3 linked regions of the Homo sapiens genome follow. The protein of the gene in region 1 interacts with the protein of each later gene in a pairwise test. Each region holds a gene or a part of one and is shown on either strand. Other genes may lie near its edges.

What was found. The genes of interacting proteins can lie anywhere in the genome.
Region 2: the proteins of NUDT22 (region 1) and SAXO1 interact in binary tests that used the Homo sapiens proteins (3 or more experiments, as listed by UniProt).
Region 3: the proteins of NUDT22 (region 1) and ZNF143 interact in binary tests that used the Homo sapiens proteins (3 or more experiments, as listed by UniProt).

The regions. Positions count from the first base shown.
Region 1 is NC_000011.10:64,221,929-64,229,687, forward strand, and holds the start of NUDT22 (uridine diphosphate glucose pyrophosphatase NUDT22), read left to right. Parts: upstream 1-4,345; 5' UTR 4,346-4,496; coding exon of another isoform or gene 4,497-4,499; exon of another isoform or gene 4,500-4,706; coding exon of another isoform or gene 4,707-4,724; coding exon 4,725-5,204; intron 5,205-5,472; coding exon of another isoform or gene 5,473-5,565; intron 5,566-5,639; coding exon 5,640-5,738; intron 5,739-7,217; exon of another isoform or gene 7,218-7,318; coding exon 7,319-7,416; exon of another isoform or gene 7,417-7,549; coding exon 7,550-7,643; exon of another isoform or gene 7,644-7,759. Other genes in the region: FERMT3 (fermitin family homolog 3 long isoform), read left to right, coding at 1,120-1,261, 1,385-1,564; TRPT1 (tRNA 2'-phosphotransferase 1), read right to left, coding at 1,948-2,039, 2,172-2,282, 2,357-2,413, 2,615-2,789, 2,867-3,042, 3,571-3,652, 3,858-3,932. UniProt on the Homo sapiens protein: Hydrolyzes UDP-glucose to glucose 1-phosphate and UMP and UDP-galactose to galactose 1-phosphate and UMP. Preferred substrate is UDP-glucose.
Region 2 is NC_000009.12:19,029,902-19,037,555, forward strand, and holds the start of SAXO1 (stabilizer of axonemal microtubules 1), read right to left. Parts: upstream 3,309-7,654; 5' UTR 3,008-3,308; coding exon 2,970-3,007; intron 1-2,969. UniProt on the Homo sapiens protein: May play a role in the regulation of cilium length. Stabilizes microtubules at low temperature.
Region 3 is NC_000011.10:9,463,521-9,471,319, forward strand, and holds part of ZNF143 (zinc finger protein 143), read left to right. Parts: exon of another isoform or gene 1-350; intron 351-6,209; exon of another isoform or gene 6,210-6,402; intron 6,403-7,022; exon of another isoform or gene 7,023-7,118; intron 7,119-7,781; 5' UTR 7,782-7,785; coding exon of another isoform or gene 7,786-7,788; coding exon 7,789-7,799. UniProt on the Homo sapiens protein: Transcriptional activator. Activates the gene for selenocysteine tRNA (tRNAsec). Binds to the SPH motif of small nuclear RNA (snRNA) gene promoters. Participates in efficient U6 RNA polymerase III transcription via its interaction with CHD8.

The DNA.
Region 1 (7,759 bases):
AAAAACAAAACAAAACAAAAAACAAATAGGCGGGGCACGGTGGTTCACGTCTGTAATCCTTGCACTTTGGGAGACCGAGGCGGGCAGATTATTTGAGGTCAGGAGTGTGAGACCAGCCTGACCAACATGGTGAAACCCTGTATCTACTAAAAATACAAAAATTAGCCGAGTGTGGTGGCAGGCGCCTATAATCCCAGCTACTCGGGAGGCTGAGGCAGGAGAATGTCTTGAACTCGGGAGGTGGAGGTTGCAGTGAGCCGAGATTGTGCCACTGCACTCCAGCCTGGGTGCGAACGAGTGAGACTCAGTCTCAAATAAATAAATAAATAAATAAATAAATAAATAAATAAATAAAAGAGCCTGCGCGATGGCTCATGCCTGTAATCCCAGCACTTTGGGAGGCCAAGGCAGGCAGATCATGAGGTCAGGAGTTCGAGACCAGCCTGACCAACATGGTGAAACCCCGTCTCTACTAAAAACACAAAAATCAGCCACAAGTGGTGGCACGTACCTGTAATCCCATGTACTCGGGAGGCTGAGACAGGAGAATCACTTGAACCCGGGAGGCGGAGGTTGCAGTGAGCCGAGATCGAGCCACTGTACTCCAGCCTGGCAACAAAGCGACACTCCGTCTCAAAAAAAAAAAAAAAAAAAAAAGAGATTTCAGGTCAGGAGAGCAGAAGAACCAGTTCTTGCTCCAGCTCTGCTGTGGACAGTTCACTGTCTGGGCCTGGGTTCGCCGGTCCGCAAGACAGGGCTAGCGGTGGATGCTGTTATGGGGAGTGGGCCCCTTTGATTAGTTGTTTCCCAAGACTGCAAAGAAGGGAGGGAGACAGCAGTTGATGAGGATGGTAACAAAAACCAAAAAAAGTTACCATTTAAAGGCTTGGCCTGTTTGCCCGATGCTGCTAAATGCTGTTGTGGGGATTTTATCAATTAACCCCCATTTACCAGATGAGGAACTTGAGGCCCAGGGAACCCAAATGGCTTGCTCAGGGTTACACAGCTGGTGAGCTGCAGTCGGGAAGGGCTGGCTCTCCAGCACGGCGCCACATTGTCTGGGCGGGCTCTGGCCATGCAGGGTGGAGCCCTGGCTCACTCTCTCTCCCTGGGGGCCAGGTTCAAGGGCAGCAGGAAAGACGAGATCCTGGGCATCGCCAACAACCGACTGATCCGCATCGACTTGGCCGTGGGCGACGTGGTCAAGACCTGGCGTTTCAGCAACATGCGCCAGTGGAATGTCAACTGGGACATCCGGCAGGTGGGCCCAGACCCAGGGTATATGGATGGGGGACAGGTGCAGGCCGGAGCTGGATCCAGCCAGGGTGGGGCAGGGGCTGCTCCCTTATCCCACCCACCATTTGCCCCTCTGTCTGCCCTTCAGGTGGCCATCGAGTTTGATGAACACATCAATGTGGCCTTCAGCTGCGTGTCTGCCAGCTGCCGAATTGTACACGAGTATATCGGGGGCTACATTTTCCTGTCGACGCGGGAGCGGGCCCGTGGGGAGGAGCTGGATGAAGACCTCTTCCTGCAGCTCACCGGGGGCCATGAGGCCTTCTGAGGGCTGTCTGATTGCCCCTGCCCTGCTCACCACCCTGTCACAGCCACTCCCAAGCCCACACCCACAGGGGCTCACTGCCCCACACCCGCTCCAGGCAGGCACCCAGCTGGGCATTTCACCTGCTGTCACTGACTTTGTGCAGGCCAAGGACCTGGCAGGGCCAGACGCTGTACCATCACCCAGGCCAGGGATGGGGGTGGGGGTCCCTGAGCTCATGTGGTGCCCCCTTTCCTTGTCTGAGTGGCTGAGGCTGATACCCCTGACCTATCTGCAGTCCCCCAGCACACAAGGAAGACCAGATGTAGCTACAGGATGATGAAACATGGTTTCAAACGAGTTCTTTCTTGTTACTTTTTAAAATTTCTTTTTTATAAATTAATATTTTATTGTTGGATCCTCCTCCTTTCTCTGGAGCTGTGCTTGGGGCTACTCTGACACTCTGTCTCTTCATCACCAGCCAAGGAAAGGGGCTTTCCTGATAAAGACAAGAGTTGGTTAGAGAAAGGGACACCTAAGTCAGTCTAGGGTTGGAAGCTAGGAGAGAGGTGAGGGCAGAAGGGCACAGCTTTCAGGAACAAGGAATAGGGGCTGGGGTGGTGGTTCTCACGGGTAGGGCGTAGCTGCAGGGCCTCCTTGAAGTACTTGGGAAGGAGGAAGCCATCAGTATTCCCTGGAGTCAGAATCACCCCATTGGCAGAGCGGAAGAAGGGTATTCCATCTGCTGACAGAGCCAGAGATGTGACTCATGCCCTCCCCGAAGGCAAGGGCAGCTCCTGCTTTGTCCAGACTCACCTGCCAGAGCCAGGGGTCCATCGATGAACACAGCTATTTCACAATGGGACCGCATGCCTGCAGAGACAGCTGGAGCTGAGGCCTGGGCACCTGGAGTGCAGTCAGCAACCTAGGCAGACTGGGGTCCTGGGCTGGGGGATGCAGGGGTGCTGCTCCATGCCGGACATGGGGTGGCCCCAGACAAGTGTTGTAACCTTTGAAGGGGACCTGGGAGGACAGAGTGGGTGGGAGTAGCTAGGTGGAGGGGAGGGCACTGACCACTGATGATACCGGGGTCTCCAGGCAGTCCTGGGGCCAGGTGAATGTGCGTCCTTCCCTGGCAGGACAGGCCTTTGAGTAGGATGGATGGCCAGTGCTTCCAGAATGTACCATGGACTAGCATCGGGGGCAGGGCCTGCGGTGTCTCCAGGGGCATCAGCTCCAACTTAGGTACCTGGTTGAACGGGTAGCAGTGAGACCCCCTTCGCAGGCAGGGGTCCCTCCCATCTCGTCTCGCACTTGTCCCCTCACCCCGACCTGCAGGGAATGGCCCTGGTTGGCCCGGATGAGAAGGCCAGTGCTGGGATCCCCCAGCTGCAGGGCGAACCGCTGCTTCCTATTGGTGTCCACCACGCGCTGCACATCTTCAGCAGAGAAGCCGCGGAACTGGGGCAACTGCAGGAGGGTGCCCAGGGGCACGAAGCCATCTGTGGGCAGGCAGGGTGCTCAGGAGCTAACCTTGCTCTGGACTGGGCCAGGGTTAACAGGGAGCCACAGGCAACCGAAACAAAGTCTGGGCTTGGAGATCGCTTGGGCATCCTCTGTGGGACCTTTAGAAAGTCTCCCCTTTCTGGGCCGCAGTTTTTTCAACTTACATAAAAAGAGGATCTGCCTCACGGAGGGGCAGGGAGGTGAGTGCCCAGCATAGCGCTGGCCCGGAGTGCACACTCACACCACCAGCTGCACCGTATCCTCCAGGGCTCGCCCTCGGGGTAAGTGCTGATCTGGCTGCTTGGCTGGAGGGGGCGGTCACCAGGCCTGGCCCAGACAAGAACTCTCCTCAGTCTGCTGTGGACATGACAGGGGCTCTAGGCCTTGCTCTCCTCTGTGCATGGGGAGGAAGTGCACTCTGTGCCTTCCTCAGGGAGCGGTGGAGGCAGCCATCAGGGAGGAGTCGCAGACAGGCTCACGTTTCTCTCTGGGCTCAAGCCCCAGCCTCCAAGGCCCCTACTTACCAGCTCCCATGGGAAGCCCCAGCTTCAAGGCCCCATGGCGCAGGGCATAGGACAGAGCCTTGGACAGCTGCACGTCTCGGTCCTGAAAGAACCCAGCGGTGGCCCCTAGTCTCCATGGTGACCCTGCCCTACTGCCCATCCTGAACCCTCAATGACCCACTGCAGAGAGAGCCCAGAGAGAAAGGAGTGCCAGTGGTCTCCAGGAATAGTAGGACCCTTCAGCTCCGCCCCCCAGCAACTCCCAGGGAGCCTGGACTGGTGGGAGGGGGTGGGGAGGAGGCGCGCACCTGTTCTCGGGGTCTGGGAGCCCTTCTACCCCTGGACCCTGCTGCTTCCTGCCTCCCTCCTCCAGAGAAGTTCATGGTTAAGACCTGTGGGGGGCAGTGACGAGGGGGGACTGCTTTAAGGCCCCTTCCACGTCCCCATCCCTCCCAGAAAGTCACAAAGCCTCAGGAAGTGAGCGCTGGGTGGGAGTATACGGCTCATTAAGTTCACCACCCCCAAGTCCCTGCTGCAGAGAGGGAAACTAAGGCCCAGCAGGCCAGACTTGCCCAAGGTCACACGGTCAGCCAGGAGCGCAGGGAGGCCGAGCCCCGCACCCCAGATCGCTGGTGCGCCCCGCAGGGTGGTCCGGGAGGCAGGGCCGACGTGCCGACGGACCGGGCGGAAGCGTCGGGGCGGCGGGGACAAACCTCCAGGATCCTCGACCGCGGCGGACCCGCCAATGAAAAGCCGCGTGGAAAGGGGGCGGGCACTTCCGCTTCGGGGAAGGGGCGGAGCCTGAGGGACCCGGCGGCTGGTGAGCGCCCGCTGGAGGCTGGAGCTTCCGGGCCCTGGAAAGGGGTCCCCGCGCGCCCCGGGTCGGAGGCAGACCCCTGGGTTTGGGGGACATGGGCATTTGGGGCGCCTGAACCCAAGACCTCTGGATGGTAGGGATGCCCGGGCGTCCTGGATACCCTGCGGGACTCGGGGCTCCTGCGGGGAAGATGGCACGTTTTACTGCCCAAGGAGTGGTCAGGGGGGTGGAGAAGCGCTGCGGATACCCTCAGGAGGTCTGCGACAGAGGGGGCTAGCTGCGCAGCCCAGGAGTGGTAGTGGCCCCCCTGGATGACAGGCCTGGCCGTATCCTCCCCCAGAGCTGCCCCGTTCAGACCATGGATCCTGAGGTGACCTTGCTGCTGCAGTGCCCTGGCGGGGGCCTGCCCCAGGAGCAGATACAGGCCGAGCTGAGCCCCGCCCATGACCGTCGCCCACTGCCAGGTGGGGACGAGGCCATCACTGCCATCTGGGAGACCCGGCTAAAGGCCCAACCCTGGCTCTTCGACGCCCCCAAGTTCCGCCTGCACTCAGCCACCCTGGCGCCTATTGGCTCTCGGGGGCCACAGCTGCTCCTGCGCCTGGGCCTTACTTCCTACCGAGACTTCCTGGGCACCAACTGGTCCAGCTCAGCTGCCTGGCTGCGACAGCAGGGTGCCACCGACTGGGGTGACACGCAGGCCTATCTGGCGGACCCACTGGGGGTGGGCGCTGCACTAGCCACAGCCGATGACTTCCTTGTCTTCCTGCGCCGCTCCCGGCAGGTGGCTGAGGCCCCTGGGCTGGTGGACGTACCTGGTGGGCACCCTGAGCCTCAGGTGAGATTCCAGGCTGGGCACAAAGACCCAGACAGCTCAAGGGAGCTGCAGCTCTCCACCCTCCCAATCCTCCCAGCTTTGGTTTCCTCATTCCTTAAAGGGAAAATTGGCCTGGTATTTCTCTGGAAGTTTGCTCAGGGCAGTCCACCTGCCTCCCCACTGACCCCTGCCCCAGTCCTGTGAGAAACTAGAAAACACGGGAGGAAAGATTGGGCACAGGAAGAAGATGCCCTACTCCACCCCTGCCCCCTGTGTATCTCCTTTGAAGCTGGACCTCTGGTTGTCTGTCAGGGAAAGGACACCAGACTCAGGATCACTAACTCTCTTACACTGTGCCACATCAGACCCTCAAGGCCAGCAGGTATAGGCTTGCTGGTCCTGAGATGGGGCAGGGGGAAGAGGTGGGGAGCAGGGGCTGAGCCTGACCTCTCACAGGCCCTGTGCCCTGGTGGCAGCCCCCAGCACCAGGACCTCGCTGGGCAGCTGGTGGTACATGAACTCTTTTCCAGTGTCCTTCAGGAGATCTGTGATGAGGTGAGTGAGGTTGACCTGGACAGGGTGGTAGACATGAAGGGAGGGGGTAGGACTTGCCAGAATTCTACAGGTCTGGGCTGGCAGGAGGCCTGCAGGCATCTGGCCAGCAATGAGGGAAGAAGTTGGCTTTGCAGCTATACATACTTGGAGTGGAATTCTAGCCCTCAGTACCCTCTGCCTTGGATTCTTCTTCTTTTCTTTTTTCTTTCTTTTTTTTTTTTTAGACAGAGTCTCGCTCTGTTGCCCAGGCTGGAATGCAGTGGCACGATCTCTGCTCACTGCAAGCTCCACCTCCCGGGTTCACGCCATTCTCCTACCTCAGCCTCCTGAGTAGCTGGGACTACAGGCATCCGCCACCATGCCTGGCTAATTTTTTTTGTATTTTTAGTAGAGATGGGGTTTCACCTTGTTAGCCAGGATGGTCTTGATCTCCTGACCTCGTGATCTGCCTGCCTCAGCCTCCAAAAGTGCTGGGATTACAGGTGTGAGCCACTGCACCAGGCCGGATTCTTCTTCTTTTTTTTTTTTTTCTTTTTGAGACAGAGTCTTGCTCTGTTGCCCAGGCTAGTGCAGTGGTGGCATATCGGCTCACTGCAACCTTCGCCTCCTGGGTTCAAGTGATTCTCATGCCTTGCCCCGCCAAGGATTCTTCTTTTCAATGGAAACAATGATAAATATCTTGCCTACTCCCCAAGTCTGTTGAAAAAGGAGTAAGTGGCCGGGCGCCGTGGCTCATGCCTGTAATCCCAGCACTTTGGGAGGCTGAGGTGGGCAGATCACAAGGTCAGGAGATCAAGACCATCCTGGCTAACACGGTGAAACCCTGACTTTACTAAAAATACCAAAAGTTAGCCGGGCGTGGTGGCGGGCACCTGTAGTCCCAGCTACTCAGGAGGCTGAGGCAGGAGAATGGCGTGAACCCGGGAGGCGGAGGTTGCAGTGAGCCGAAATCGCGCCACTGCACTTCAGCCTGGGCGACAAAGCGAGACTCCGTCTCAAAAAAAAGAAAAAGGAGTAAGTGTGGCAGGGTGTGGTGGCTCACACCTGTAATCCCAGCACTTTGGGAGGCCAAGGCCAGCGGATCACCTGAGGTCAGGAGTTCGAGACCAGCCTGGCCAACATGGAGAAACCCCATCTCTACTAAAAATACAAAAAATTAGCCAGGCGTTGTGGCGTGCACCTGTAATCCCAGCTACTCAGGAGGCTGAGGCAGGAGAATCACTTTAACCTGGGAGGCAGAGGTTGCAGTGAGCTGAGATCGTGCCACTGTACTCCAGCCTGGGCGACAGAGCGAGACTCCATCTCAAAAAAAGAAAAAAAGAAAAAGGAGTAAGTGGGAGTCCCAGTCACTAAATTGACTTCTCTTGGGTGACCTTGGGCAACGTGTTCAATCTCTCTGGTTTTGGTGTACCTGTAAAACAAACATGCCCATCATCTGACATTCTGTAATGCTGGGTCCTTGATCTACAAGCTATAAAATGCTGTACACAGGTAACAGGCGGTTTTTCATTGAGACGGGCAGGGATGTGGGCAGTGGCATTGATAGGTGGGACCTCCCCCCACCCCACCCTCCACCGCAGGTGAACCTGCCGCTGCTCACCCTGAGCCAGCCCCTGCTGTTGGGCATCGCCCGAAATGAGACCAGTGCTGGCCGAGCCAGTGCCGAGTTCTATGTCCAGTGAGTAGGCTCGGGTACATGATCCTGGGTCTTGGGAAGGTGGGTGGTGAGGAGTGGGCTGAGGCAGCTGTGGCTCCACAGGTACCCCGCAGGGGCTGGTCACCCACTAAGCCACCCTTGTGTTCTTGTCCAGGTGCAGCCTGACTTCTGAGCAGGTGAGGAAGCACTACCTGAGTGGGGGACCCGAGGCCCACGAGTCTACAGGAATCTTCTTTGTGGAGACACAGGTGCAGAGTGACAAACCATCTTGCTTGGAGGCCAGGGCTGGGGCCTGCAGAGGCCTGGCAATGCATATCTTGTAGGGGAGGTGTTGGCTGGGTCACAATTCCCTCCAGAGTCACAA
Region 2 (7,654 bases), on another chromosome or scaffold:
CATTCATTCAAAAAGATATGTGTTAGCTGTTAATAAAGAAAACTGTGTTGCTATGATACAGTGCACACACAAAAATAGAAAATATCTGTTTTCCCAGCGTACATATAATTAATCGAGGATATAAAGCATGCTGATGCATAGAGGATGAGAACACGGAGCGGGGTTTTTCTTTGATGGGGAGCCACAGGGCTGGGTTAACAGGGAACTTGCAAGTGAAACCGGGCCTTACAAGTCCAGCAGGAGGAGGGAACATAGGTATTTTAGAGAAAGGGAAAGGATAAGGATCAGAAAAGGGACATCAGCAGGTCCACTCAGGGGATGCCAAGAAACCTGATCCAATTCAAGGTGTAGTTTCATGTAAGGGAATCATGGGAGAAAAAAAAACTAGGAAGGTAATTTAGGACCAGTTTCCAAACACAAAAATGAGAGAACCAGGGAGGTTGTAACCGGAATAAAAGGGAAGGGACCAATTAAAGAAAGATTACAATGGAGGAGGGACCCAGACTTTAGAAAAGAGTCAATGTGCCAGGCTCGGTGGCTCACGCCTGTAATCCCAACACTTTTGGAGGCCAAGGTAGGTGGATCATTTGAGGTCAGGAGTTTAAGACCAGCTGGCCAACATGGTGAAACCCCATCTCTACTAAAAATGCAAAAATTAGCCCAGCATGGTGGTGGGTACCTGTAATCCCAGCTACTTGGGAGGCTGGGGCAGGAGAATCGTTTGAACCCAGCAGGCGGAGGTTGCAGTGAGCAGAGATCGCGCCACTGCACGACAGAGTAAGACTCCATCTCAAAAAAATAAAAAAAATAAAAAAATAAGAAGAAGAAAAAGATTCAATGTTCTGTTTGAGGGAGAGTAAGAGATGATTCAAAATTTTCACCCAGGGTGAATGGAAGATTGCTGGCACCATGAATGGGGCAGATACCAGAATAATGTTTGAAGGTTGTTGAAGTTGAGATTAATGAGACAGATGGATCACCAAAGCACTTTGAGAAGATGAAAATGAAACTGGAATTCAGAAGACAGGAGAAACTATTGGCTGAAACCATAAAATGGAGGAGAAAATACAGGATGAGGAGAGAAGAAAAGGAGAAGAGACACAAGAACAGACTCTGCTTCCAATGGAAAGTGACTCCTTTGCAGGGACAGAATGAGAACAGAGTCAGAGAAGGAACACCCAAATGAGTCATAACCCTACTGCAGGGGCAGGAGGGAGACTTCTCACTATATATGCTCTGCACCTCTTAATGAGCATTCTGCCTTCCTACCTAGACTGCACGCTGTGCAAAGATGGAGACTATGTCTTATACATTCAATCCCAATGCCTAGAACAATGCAGGAGGACACAGGAGGGTAATGTAAAGCATCCCAGTAGAAAGAAGGCCTTAGTGGCTCATGCCTGTAATCCCAGCACTTTGGGAGGCCGAGGCAGGCGATCACCTGAGATCAGGAGTTCAAAACCAGCCTGGACAACATGGTTGAAACCCTGTCTCTACTAAAAATACAAAAATTAGCCAGGCATGGTGGCATGTGCCTGTAATCCCATCTACTCAGGAGGCTGAGGCAGGAGAATCACTTGAACCCTGAGGCATAGGTTGCAGTGAAGCGAGATGGCACCACTGCACTCCAGCCTGCGCAACAGAGCAAGACACTGCCTCCAAAAAGAAAAAAGAAAGGCGGCCTTAGAAAAAAAGGTTTTGCTTGGTAACATGTAGTCCTAGACTATACACTGCTCTGGCCCCACTTAACAAAGCTCAAAAGCAAGACCCACGTTTGTACATGATCTAGTTCAGTGAGTCCCAGTCCTAGCAAATGGCCAGAATCACCTTTAGACAGTTGACAGGGCCCACTCTGAGAGTATCAATTCAACGGCCTGAGCAACTGATAGTTTTCAAACTCCCTGTGTGATTCTAATCAGCAGCCAGAGTTGGGAACCATTTATTGATGCCAGAGATATAGAAGGTTGCTGATCCAGTTTTTAGAGTGCCCTTTAATTCTCCACACTACTGATACCATTTTTATATGCATGTGTCATATTTGCCCTTTTTTCAGATTTCAGGACACTAACATATTAAGCACAATCCATGTACCAGGACTCACATACATGATCTTAACTCTTACAATAGTCCTATGAGGTACGTATTGTTGGTACAGATGAGGCGACTATGACCTGGAGTTTAGTTACCAATCTAAGATCCCACAATTAATGACAGCCCAGGAAAGGTGACCTCAGAACCCTCTTGCCTGTTGCTCCTCTGCTGCCCACTCCCTGCCCCAGCCAAGCAGAAACCCAGCTGCCCTGGGAAGCAGATAGAAGGAGCCTCTAAGAGATCATGTGAGTGACAGCAGACCAGTCAGCCCGTGGGACTCTGACTAAAGTCCATGATTTCCCCCAGGACCACCTTTACTGCGCTTCCACCCAAAGATGGTCCTTAAAGGTTAGAAGGGAGACCTGGCAGGCCAGGCGACTGTGAAAGTAATGTTTTCATTATCCTTATTCAACTCTACACAATGTGGAACAAGTTTTACTAATACCTTATACTTCTCTGACAAAGTAACAATCTCTCTGAATGAGAAATTCAGTTATACTACAGGAATTCTCCTCCCATCCTATCACTTTCCCAAAAGGAGCAAGACTGGTCCCACTGGGCCAGGTGTTCTCCCTCCTTGGCTGACACTTTCTGGGCTTCAGGGAAGGGAGTGCAGACTGCGCGGTCACGCCCATTTTCAACCCTCCTGCAGTTCTCAAGTGAAGCGGCACAGAAGGCCCGAAAACAGCCACATTCGCCAGAACTGATGTGGCGTCCGCGGGCACAACGCTAGTTGACACAATTGTGGCTTAAAAAACGTAGCAAGTGGACGAACCCACCGTGATGCCGCCTGATGAAGCAGCTGGGGGAGGCTTCCCTTCCTCGGGAGTCTGAAAACCCAGGCTCCCCCAGCCTTGCCCTGGGCGTGGCCACCTTACCCGCAGGAGCACAGTTCACAGATGCACTTCGTCTTCATAGGGGCGATCCTGAGGCCCTGACGTCCCCTCAGAGCATCGCCAGCTGCAGCCGACTCCTAGACCCCAACCACCTGTCTTGGGGCACGCCCAGGCTCGAGGGTCTTGGCAGGTGTTCTGTTTACTCGAAGGAAAATTTAAGTGGCCCTTTTGCAATGTCCTGTCGTCTGTTGCCCTCCTGGAGCTGGCCTAGCGCGAGGTAGCAGCAGGGGGCTTGCACGCGCGCCAGCCCGGGAGACCTCACCCTGCACGCCACCGCCCCGGCCTCCGCAGTCCAGACTTAAGCACCTGGAGCGGCTGACTGGGCCCCAGGAAGCTGCGGGGTCCGTGCCCAGGTAGCCTCTGTGATGTCGCCAGGGCCAGGAGGGGCACGCCTCAGGTGGCAATTACATCACAAGAGCCGCTTGTGAGGTCGGGAAGCTCCCAGCACCTCACTGGCAGGCCCAGGACAGGGGTTCCCCGGTGAACCTTGGAAAAACCTGAAAAAGGTGGAAGTCACTAGAAAGCTCCTGGTGCAGTAAACGGTCACACGTGCAGAAAAGCTGAAAACTCCCTCACCATCACCTTGGGTGGCATTTGCTATCTCTAGGATCCATGGTGCCCCCTCTTAGGGGAATACAGCCTTGACTTCCAAAAGGCTTGCCTTGAACAGGGTTTCCAGATCTTCCTGTGGAAACCTAGGCCTTTGGCTTCAGATGTCTGTTAGAATTGCTCTCACCCACAGACCTGCGCTCTTGAGAACACAGTGGTTTAAGAGCGCCCAGGCCTTCACTGCTCAGGTGGGTTCTCAATCACTTCTCCAGATGCTGGTAATGATGCCTTGAAGCAGGCGTTCTCAAATTCTAGTTGGCATCAGGACCACCTGGCTTGATGAAAACCAGATTGCCAGACCCCACCCCCAGTTTCTGATTCAGTGTTTCTAGGGTAGGCCAAAGACTTGCATTTCTTACAAGCTCTCAGGTAATGCTGGTTCTGCTGGGCCACGGACCACACTTTAAGAACTACAGCTTTTGAGGTTCCTTTACACCCCCTGGAATAGTGTTTCTTCAGCTTACCTGATCCCGAGAGCACACCCCCACCCAGAAGTCTCCCTTGCATCAAAACCTCTAGTCCGGGAATCTAGCTTCAACAAGAAGCCAGGTGATTCTGGTCATGAAGCAAGTTCAAAAGACACTGCTCTGGCCAGTTGTTTGGACTTAAAACATTTTGACTTCCTGCTTATGGGAAATGGGAGCTTAAAGTATTGACAATCTTTATGCTTTTCTTTCCTATGCTTCCTAACTCTTTCCATTCATTTTAGTGAATGAGTCAGTCAGAGGCATCTTGGACTGCAAGACACTTAATATTCAGAGGGTTTCTTTTTGTGTGGGGGGGGTTAGGTTTTTTCCTTCAGTAATAGGCTCTAGAATAGAGGTCAGCAAACTATTGTCTGCAGTTGGCCACTTGACTCTATCTGGCCATTGAGCTAAGAATGGTTTTCATATTTTTTAATGGTTGAAAAAATTAAAATAATAATATTACATGACAAATGAAACTTACCTAAAATTCAAATTTCAGTGTCTGTGAATAAAGTTTTGAATTTTTTCAAAAAATTTGTGTAAACATTCCCGATTTTGCCTCTTGGCCCACAAAAGCTAAAATATTCACTATCTGACATTTTACAGAGAGAGAGTTCCAACCCCAGTTATAGGAAGTCAGCAAGGTAGATTCAGACAGGAGCAAAGCTTATTGATCATTCTTAAGAACAGTGGGGTGGGAAGCTGCTCCTTGCCTTCCCAGTAGGAAGTCAGAACTCTACAGGGGAGGATGGAAACATGGCCAGACAAAAAAGAGGTGGGAGCTATTGGAAGTCAAAGCAAAACCTGCATGCCATCCATTGCCATTGACAGAGAACATCACACAGTCCTTACAGAGGAAATACAGTGCTGGACACCAGCCTTCTCTTGATGGCTGCCTAAACATTATCCATAAATCTTTCAGCAGAAGAATGCCTGTTCATGCCCCCTGCCATTCAAACTGCCCTTGTGGGTGGCCACCTTGTCAACAATCATGGTACTCCCCACTTCCTCCATCCATGCCCTCAATAGAGGGTAGAGATCTTGAAAGATGAAGATGGTGTGGACAAAATAGCCTCAACAATGATATACCTAAAGATCAGTGCTAGACAGTAGGGACAACCTCCCCTCACCTAGTTACACTTACTGTCCATCTTTTGTTACATCCAGCCAAACTTACCCTGACCCATCTGATATGGTTTGGTTCTGTGTCCCCACCCAAATCTAATCTTGAATTGTACTCCCATAATTCCCACATGTTGTGGGAGGGACCCAGTGGGAGATAATTTGAATCATGGGGGCGGTTTCCCCCATACTGCTCTTATGATAGAGAATAAGTCTCATGAGATCTGACGGTTTTATCTTCATTTTTCTCTCTTGCCACCCGCCATGTAGGAAGGGTCTTTCACCTCCCACCATGATTCTGAGACCTCCCCAGCCATGTGGAACTGTAAGTCCAATTAAACTGCTTTATCTTCCCAGTCTCAGATATGTCTTTATCAGCAGCATGAAAATGGACTAATACAGTAAATTGGTACCAGCAGAGTGGGATGCTGCTGAAAAGTTACCCAAAAATGAGGAAGCAACTTTGGAACTGGGTAATAGGCAGAGGTTGGAACAGTTTGGAGGGCTCCGAAGAAGACAGGAAAATGTGAGAAAATTTGGAACTTCCTAGAGACTTGTTGAATGGCTTTGCCCAAAATGCTGATAGCGATATGGACAATAAAGTCCAGGCTGAGGTGGTCTCAGATAGAGATGAGGAACTTGTTGGGAATGGAATCCAAGGTGATTCTTGTTATGTTTTAGCAAAGAGACTGGTGGCATTTTGCCCTGTCCTAGAGATCTATGGAAGTTTGAACTTGAGGGAGATGATTTAGGGTATCTGGCAGACGAAACTTCTAAGCAGCAAAGCATTTAACAGGTGACTTGGGTGCTGTTAAAGGCATTCAGTTTTATAAGGGAAGCAGAGCACAAAAGTTTGGAAAATTTGCATCCTGACAATGCAATAGAAAAGAAAAACCTTCTCAGCAAACTAACACAAGAACAGAAAACCAAACACCACATGTTCTCACTCATAAGTGGGAGCTGAACAATGAGAACACATGGACACAGGGAGGGGAACATCACACACTGGGGCCTGGCGGGGGGTAGGGGGCTGGGGGAGGGAGAGCATTAGGAGAAATACCTAATGTAGATGATGGGTTGATGGGTGCAGCAAACGACCATGGCACATGTATACCCATGTAACAAACCTGCACGTTCTGCACATGTACCCCAGAACTTAAAGTATAATAAAAAAAAAAAAAAAGAAAGAAAGAAAGAAAAAAGAAAAGAAAAACCTGTTTTCTGAGGAGAAATTCAAGCTGGCTGCAGAAATTTGCATAAGTGACAAGTAGCCAAATGTTAATCCCCAAGACAATGGGGAAAATGTCTCCTGGGCATGTCAGAAATCTTCACAGCAGCCCCTCCCATCACAGGCCCGCAGGCCTAGGAGAAAATGGTTTCATGGGCCGGGACCAGGGTCCCCATGCTGTGTCCAGCCTAGGGACTTGGTGCCCTGCATCCCAGCTGCTCCAGCCATGGCTGAAAGGGGCCAACATAGAGCTTGGGCCATGGCTTCAGAGGATGCAAGCCCCAAGCCTTGGCAGCTTCCGCATGGTGTTAAGCCTGTGAGTGCACAGAAGTCAAGAATTGAGGTTTGGGAATCTCCGCCTAGATTTCAGAGGATATATGGAAATGCCTGGATGTCCAAGCAGAAGTTTGCTGCAGGGTTGGAACTCTCATGGAGAACCTCTGCTAGGGCAATGTGAAAGGGAAATGTCCCTACTGGGGCACCACCTAGTGGAGCTGTGAGAAGAGGGCCAGCATCCTCCAGACCCCAAAATGGGAGATCCACCGACAAATTGCACTGTGTGCCTGGTAAAGCCACAGACACTCATTGCCAGCCCATGAAAACATCCAGAAGGGAGGCGGTACCCTGGAAAGCCACAGGGGAGGAGCTGTCCAAGACCATGGGAATTCACCTCTTGCTTCAGCGTGACCTGGATGTGAGACATGGAGTCAAAGGAGATCATTTTGGAGCTTTAAGATTTGACTACCCTGCTGGATTTCAGACTTGCATGGGGACTGTAACCCCTTTGTTTTGCCCAATTTCTCCCATTTGGAATGGCTGTATTTACCCAGTACCTATATCCGCATTTTATCTAGGAAGTAACTAGCTTGCTTTTGATTTTACAGGTTCATAGGTGGAAGGGACTTGCCTTGTCTCAGATGAAATTTTGGACTGTGGACTTTCGGGTTAATGCCGAAATGACTTAAGACTTTGGAGGGACTGTTGGGAAGGCATGTTTTTTGTGAAATGTGAGGACATGAGATTTGGAGGGACCAGGGGTGAAACTATATGGTTTGGCTCTGTGTCCCCACCCATATCTCATCTTAAATTGTACTCCCATAATTCCCACATGTTGTGGGAGGGACCCAGTGGGAGATAATTTGAATCATGACAGCAGATTACCCCATACTGTTCTCATGGTAGTAAGTCTCACAAGTTCTGATGGATTTATCAGGGGTTTCCGCTTTTGCATCCTCCTCATT
Region 3 (7,799 bases), about 55 Mb from region 1:
TGATGGTTAATAATGTTGAGCATTTTTTCTGTGCCTAACGATCATTTATAATCATTGGAGAAATGTCTGTTTGAATTCTTTACCCATTTTAAAGTTGGATTATTCGTCTTATTATGATTTGGTTGTGAGAGTACTTTATATGTTCTAGATAGAAGTCCCTTATCAGATACATGGTTTGCAAAATGTCCATAGTCCTTTGCTGTGTGTTGGAATGTTGCTGTGAAGTAAGGACTGGTTGTGTTCTTCACAGAAACGTGGCATGGCTGCATTGAACTGTGCCTCTACTACATGGTTTTATTTTTAAAATAAAAAACCACTCCACCCTCATAGCATAGTTCCATTTCTGGAAGGTAAGCACTGAATTTTTAAATGTTCATACAAGCATATACAGATAACTATATACATTTTTAAATAAATGAATGCAATCATATGGTATCTACTTTTCTGCAACTTGCTTTTTCCCACTTACCATATATCTTGGACATGTTTCTCACTGTTTCAGATAGATAGATCTCATTCTTTTAAATGCCTACATGTTTCATTTAGGGATGTCGTGTGTGTGTGTTTGTGTGTGTGTGTGTGTGTGTGTGTGTGTATTTGTGTATAGATATTAAAAATCCATTTTTTTTAAGAGACAGGGTCTCACTCTCACCCAGACTGGAGTGCAGTGGCATGATCTCAGCTCACTGCAGCCTCAACCTCCCTGGCACAAGTGATCCTCCCACCTCAGACTCCAGAGTAGCTAGGACTACAGGTGCACGCCACAATGCCCAGCTAATTTTTAGAAAAACGTTTGTAGGCCAGGCGTGGTGGCTCACGCCTATAATCCCAGTACTTTGGGAGGCTGAGGCAGGTGGATCTCCTGAGGTCAGGAATTTGAGACCAGCCTGGCCAACATGGTGAAACCCTGTCTCTACTAAAAATACAAAAATTAGCCAGGTGGGGTGGCCCATGCCTTTAATCCCAGCTACTCGGGAGGCTGAGGCAGGAGAATCTCTTGAACCTGGGAGGTGGAGGTTGCAGTGAGCTGAGATTGCACCACTGCACTCCAGCCTGGGGGACAGAACAAGACCCTGTCTCAATCAATCAATCAATCAATCAATGGTGTGTGTTAATTACATAATAAGAATAATGCTCACGCCTGTAATCCCAGCACTTTGGGAGGCCGAGGTGGGTGGATCACGAGGTCAGGAGTTCAAGATGAGCCCGACCAACATGGTGAAATCCCGTCTCTACTAAAAAAATACAAAAAATTAGCTGGGCATGGTGGCGGGCACCTGTAATCCCAGCTACTCAGGAGGCTGAGGCAGGGGAATTGCTTGAACCCAGGAGGCAGAGGTTGCAGTGAGACGAGATCGCGTCACTGTATTCCAGCCTGGGCGACAGAGGGAGACTCTGTCTCAAAAAAAAAATAATAATAATGCTAAATGGCCTATAAGGGTAATTAATTTGTTAAATGTGAATTAAAAGTGATCATTGTGAAGAATTTTTGACAACTTAGGAAAATTTATAGGAATAAAAAAAGCTGAATACAAAATGTTATGTATATGATAATTACAATGCTGTAAAAATTTTGTATGTATGTGGATAGCAAGGGCTAGAGAATAAAACCAGGAAAACTGAAAATGTTTGATTTGTTAAGCTATTGGGACTTACTATTTTTTTTATTTATTTTATTTGTTTTGAGACGGAGTCTTACTCTGTCACCCAGGCTGGAGTGCAGTGGTGCGATCTCAGCTCACTGCAACCTCCGCCTCCCGGGTTCAAGTGATTCCCCTGCCTCAGCCTCCCAAGTAGCTGGGATTACAGAAGCACGCCACCATGCCCAGCTAATTTTTTTATTTTTAGTAGAGACGGGGTTTCACCATGTTGGCCAGGCTGGTCTTGAACTCCTGACCTTGTGATCCGCCTGCCTTGGCTCCCAGAGTGCTGGGATTACAGGTGCAAGCCACCGTGCCTGGCTGGTACTTTTATTTATTTATTTATTTATTTTTTCTGAAATGGAGTCTCACTCTGTCGCCCAGGCTGGAGTGCAGTGGCGTGATCTCGGCTCTCTGCAAGCTCTGCCTCCCAGGTTCACACCATTCTCCTGCCTCAGCCTCCCTAGTAGCTGGGACTATAGGCGCCCGCCACCACGCCTGGCTAATTTTTTTTTTTTTTTTTGTATTTTTGGTAGAGACGGGGTTTCACCTGACCTCATAATCTGCCCGTCTTGGCCTCCCAAAGGACTTATTATTATAAGTTTTAAATTTATATTACAATATTGTATGCAAGGAAAAGTTTTTTGTTTTTTGTTTGTTTGTTTGTTTTCTTTTTTTGCTTTTGGGAGGATTTCTCTCTGTTTCCCAGGCAGGAGTACAGTGGCACAATCACAGCTCACTGCAGCCTCTACCTCCCAGGCCCAAGTGATCCTCCCTTCTCCTCAGCCTCCCAAGTGGCTTGGTATTACAGGTCCAAGCTACCATGTCTGGCTAATTTTTTTTTTTTTTGAGAGGGAGTTCACCCAGGCTGGAGTGCAGTGGCTAGATCTCGGCTCACTGCAACCTCCAGCTCCCAGGCTCAAGTGATTCTCCTTCCTCAGCATCCTGAGTATCTGGGATTACAGGCACCTGCCACCACATCTGGCTAATTTTTGTATTTTTAGTAGAGACAGGGTTTCACCATGTTGGCCAGGCTGGTCTTGAACTCCTGACCTTAGGTGATCCACCCATCTCAGCCTCCCAGAGTGCTGGGATTACAGACGTGAGCCACCATGCGCAGCCTAATTTTTTTCTTTTCTTTTCTTTTTTTTTGAGATGGAGTCTTGCTCTTGTTGCCCAGGCTGGAGTGCAATGATGTGATCTCGGCTCACTGCAACCTACGTCTCCCGGATTCAAGCGATTCTCCTGCTTCAGCCTCCCTAGTAGCTGGGATTACAGGCGTCTGCCACCACGCCTGGCTAATTTTTGTATTTTTAGTAGTGACTGGGTTTCACCATGTTGGCCAGGGTGGTCTCGAACTCCTGACCTCAGGTGATCCACCCACCTCAGCCTCCCAAAGTGCTGGGATTACAGATGTGAGCCACCACTCCCGGCATAATTTTTTCCTTTTTTTTATTTTCCGTAGAGACAGGGTTTCACTGTGTTGCCCAGGCTGGTCTTGAACTCCTGGCCTCAAGCCGTCTTCCCTCCTTGGCCTCCCCAAGTGCTGCAGTTACAGGTGTGAGCCATCATGCCCAGCCTGCAAGGAAAATTTTAATGGTCTACAAAACACAATAAAATAGCTGACTGTTTTTAGACTGAAACGATGAGAATATGGTGCAGAGAGCAGTAAAGATATTATTGTAATACTTTTAAATATTACAATAGAGTAATACTCTGGTTTTTTTTTGTGTGTGTGTGTGTGTTTTTTTGACACAGAGTCTCTCTGTGTCACCCAGGCTGGAGTGCAGTGGCGCGATCTCGGCTCACTGCAAGCTCTGCCTCCCGGGTTCACGCCATTCTCCTGCCTCAGCCTCCGGAGTAGCTGGGACTACAGGTGCATGCCACCGCCTGGTTAATTTTTTGTATTTTTTAGTAGAGACGGGGTTTCACCGTGTTAGCCAGGATGCTCTCAATCTCCTGACCTCGTGATCCACCCGCCTTGGCCTCCCAAAGTGCTGGGATTACAGGAGTGAGCCACTGCGCCCTGGCCAACTATGTGTAATACTCTTAAGTGAGGGGATGAAAAAGGAAAGTGTTTTTTTTTTTTTTTTGAGATAGAGTTTTACTCTGTAGCTCAGGCTGGAGTGCAGTGGCACCATCTTGGCTCACTGCTGCCTCCACCCTCCGGGTTCAAGTGATTCTCCTGCCTCAGCTGGGAGTAGCTGGGATTATAGGCACCCGCCACCATACCCGGCTGATTTTCTTATATTTTTAGTAGAGACAGGGTTTTGTCATGTTGTCCGGGCTGTTCTCAAACTCCTGACTTCAGGTGATCCACCCGCCTCAGCCTTTCAAAGTGCTGGGATTATAGGTGTGAGCCACCATGCCCAACAAGAAAAATTTTAAAGGGTGAAAATCATGGCTGGCTGGCGCAATGGCTCGTGCCTTTAATCCCAGCACTTTGGGAAGCTGAGGCGGGTGGATCATGAGGTCAGGAGTTCAAGACCCGCCTGGCCAGCATGGTGAAAACCCTTCTCTACTAAAAATACAAAAAATTACCTGGGCATGGTGGTGTGCGCCTGTAATCCCAGTTACTCAGGAGGCTGAGACAGAACTGCTTGAACTTGGGAGGTGGAAGTTACAGTGAGCTGAGATGGCGCCACTGCACTCTGGCCTGGGCGACAAGAGTGAGACTCCATCTCCAAAAAAAAAAAAAAAAAAAAAGTTGTCTGTCAGGAATTCCTTCTATAATTTTCACAATTATCTAATGATGCTTTGCTTTCCTTACCTATGTCACGATGAGCAATTTGGGTGATAAAATAGTAGCATATACAGTGTTCCTCTTGGGGGTAATAACGTACAGTCTGGCATTGTAATTTTGAAATAACATGCTTTTTAACAGAGCAGCATCAGAAATGGTGTTTGGAATATGTCAGAATCTCTTTCTTTTCTCTGCTGCATCTGTTCCTCATATTCCCTAGTTTTGCTGAAAGCAATCCAGGGCATGCTTACCAAACTGCTCTGTGCATGGAGTGCCCTTATTAAACCATGTCCATTAGTGCTACTTTATTGAAGTTTAAGAGAGGTGTTTTTTGTTCTTTTTCACATCAATAGTTCAGTTGAGATCAAACCATCACCAAAATGGGGATACCTAATGACTAGACCTAGATGTTCATTTCTAAATTCTTGTCTCTGCTCTCAGCTCTTTCCTGACAGGTATTTTTAGCTTTAAGCCTAGTAGGTCCTATCTCTGTTGTCACTTCAAAGGTATCAGGCTCTACCTACCTGCCAGTCAGTTTCATATATTCAGTTTTTGAATAGTCCTGGAACTGCACAAAGCCTTCAAGTTTCAACATTTCACCTATCCAATAGGATATTCTGCCCCAATTAGAATTGGCAGTATGAACTCTTTGCCCATACTTTAACCCTTAGCATCATATGGAGTCTGCGAGAACTCTATCTCATTTGCTAGCACGTTCTAATTACTTTTTACTTCACTGAATTATATTTAATTAATGGAACATGCTTACACTCTGGCTATATTTAAATATAACTCAAGGCTGGGTGTGGCTTATGCCTATAATCCCAGCTACTCAGGAGGCTGAGGCAGGAGGATCACATGAGCCCAAGAATTTGAGGTTGCAGGGTCCTGCCACTGCAGTCCAGCCTGGGTGACAGAGTGAGACTCGACTTTCATATATCATATATTTTCTGGGCACGGTGGCTCACACCTGTAATCCCAGTACTTTGGGAGGCTGAGGCATGCAGATCACTTGAGGTCAGAAGTTCGAGACCAGCCTGGCCAACATGGTGAAACCCCACCTCTACTAAAAATACAAAAATGAGCCAGGTGTGGTGGCACGTACCTGTAATCCCAGTTACTCGGGAGGCTGAGGCATGAGAATCACTTGAACCTGGGAGGTGGAGGTTGCAGTGATCTGAGATCACGCCATTGCACTCTAGCCTCGGCTACAGTGAGATGCCATCTCAAAAAAAAAAAAGTAGAGTAATGCAGTATTTGTCTTTTTGTAACTGAAAATTAGCCTATGCTAATTTTATTCTCAGCAGGGGTCTTTTTTTTTTTTTTTTTTTTTTTACCACCCCCCCATACGGAGTTTCGCTCTTGTTGCCCAGCTTGGAGTGCAATGTTGTGATCTCGGCTCACTGCAACCTCCACCTCCCGGGTTCAGGCAGTTTTCCTGCCTCAGCCTCCCAAGTAGCTGGGATTACAGGCGTGCACCACCACTCCCAGCTAATTTTTGTATTTTTAGTAGTGACGGGGTTTCACCTTGTTGGTCAGGCTGATATGGAACTCCTGACCTCAGGTGATCCACCCACCCTGGCCTCCCAAAGTGCTGGGATTACAGGCATGAGCCACCGCGTGCAGCCCACAGGTCTTAACAGTAGGGTACTGGTGTTACTTTGAGTCTTCTCTGCCAGCTTTTGGAGGTGCCAAGGAAATGACGTTTCAGCTTGTTCTATGAACAGTTATAGATTATGGATCCTTTTGTACCTAAAAGGTCACCCCTTGACTTTTTCTTTAAATGTGCGTGCCACCACATCCAGCTAATTTGTTAATATTTTTAGTAGAGACAGGGTTTCACCATGTTGACCAGGCTGGTCTCGAACTCCTGACCTCAGGTGATCCACCTGCTTTGGCCTTTCAGAGTGCTGTGAATCCAGGTGTGAGCCACTGCACCCAGCCTTGACTGACAGTTATCATGGCACTGATACCTTTTTGTGTATCTGAACAGTAGTTCCCACTTTTGGTCTAATGAAGGTACAGTTTATAGTATTTCCAAGACAAAATTCTTCAAGCAATCCTAAACGTAAAAAGAATTACAAATTATTACTACTATCTGTGTATTGCTCTTTTAAATATTGATGCTAAGTCAGATCTTTGGACCTGGAAAGGTCCTCAAGACATCTTCTGGTTCAGTTCCCTGTCCCAAGGCAGCTACATTATCCCAGCTACTGTTTGAGATAAGCCATGGTCCACAGAGGTAAGGAGACCTGGAGGTAGAAGGGAAGAAGGAGGTTGTGTTGGTGATTGGTAGAAGAGTTGCCCATTCATCCATTTATTCTGTACCTATTGTACTTCTACTATGGGCCAAGCACTTTCTAGGCACTAGAGTCAGCAGTGAGCAAACAAACAGAAGTCTCTGTCCATTCTCATGGAAGGGGAAATAGATAAACTAAATACATAAATACATGTAATTTGTTAAATAATAAGTACTGTGCAGAAACATGGAGGGGAAAAGAAGGATGGGGTTTACCATGATTGAGCAGTTGGGAGGTGCAGTTTGAAATGGGATGGACAGGGAAGCTCTCATTCCATTTGAGCAAAGACTTGAAGAGGGTAGGGAATGAATAATGAAGATACTGGGGACAATGTTTCAGGCAGAAGGAAACTCAAATGAACACGTTCTAAGGCAGCAGAACATCCAATATGCTTGAGGAAAATGCCAATGTGGCTGAAGTGGAGTGAATGAGATGGTGAGTAGTAGGAAATGAGGGGCAAGATCATTGGCCTCATTGATCAGTGTAAGGATTTGGGGATTTTACTCTGAGAAAGTCCTCAGAAGGTTTTGAGCAGAAGCGGGACATGAGCTAACTTTTCCCTTCAAAGGACACTGACCGCTGTGTCAAAAGAAGAGTGTAGGAGGCTAATGGAGAAGCAGGGAAATAAGTTAGGATGCTGTTATAGTAATGCAGGTGAGAGACTGGTTGTGGCTTAGATCAGGGAAGTACTGGTGAAGGTTGTGAGAGGTAGCCAGATTCGGGGTAGATTTCTGAAGATTAAGTCAACAAAATATGCTGACACATTGTAAGTGGGAATCCTCAGCAATGCTAAACCCAAAGGACTCTAATTATGGGAATTCTAGAGATCATATGAAACTGATGGGCACAATTCGTCAGTGTACTTCTAAGTTGCTAAGCGCACTGACAAATTGTGCCCATCAGTTTGAATTGTTGAATTATAAGAAGCATGCCTTGGACTTTGGGCTAATACTCTTACCCTACATATTGAGTGAAATTTCATCTTATTTCCAACACCATTACATCCTCAGCAGCTTTTTGTGGTTCATAAATATTCTTTGTAACTTTCATTTCACATGTATCATTCTTTGTTCCCAAGTGTCTTTATTTTTCTTCAAGGTAGAAGATGTTGTTAGC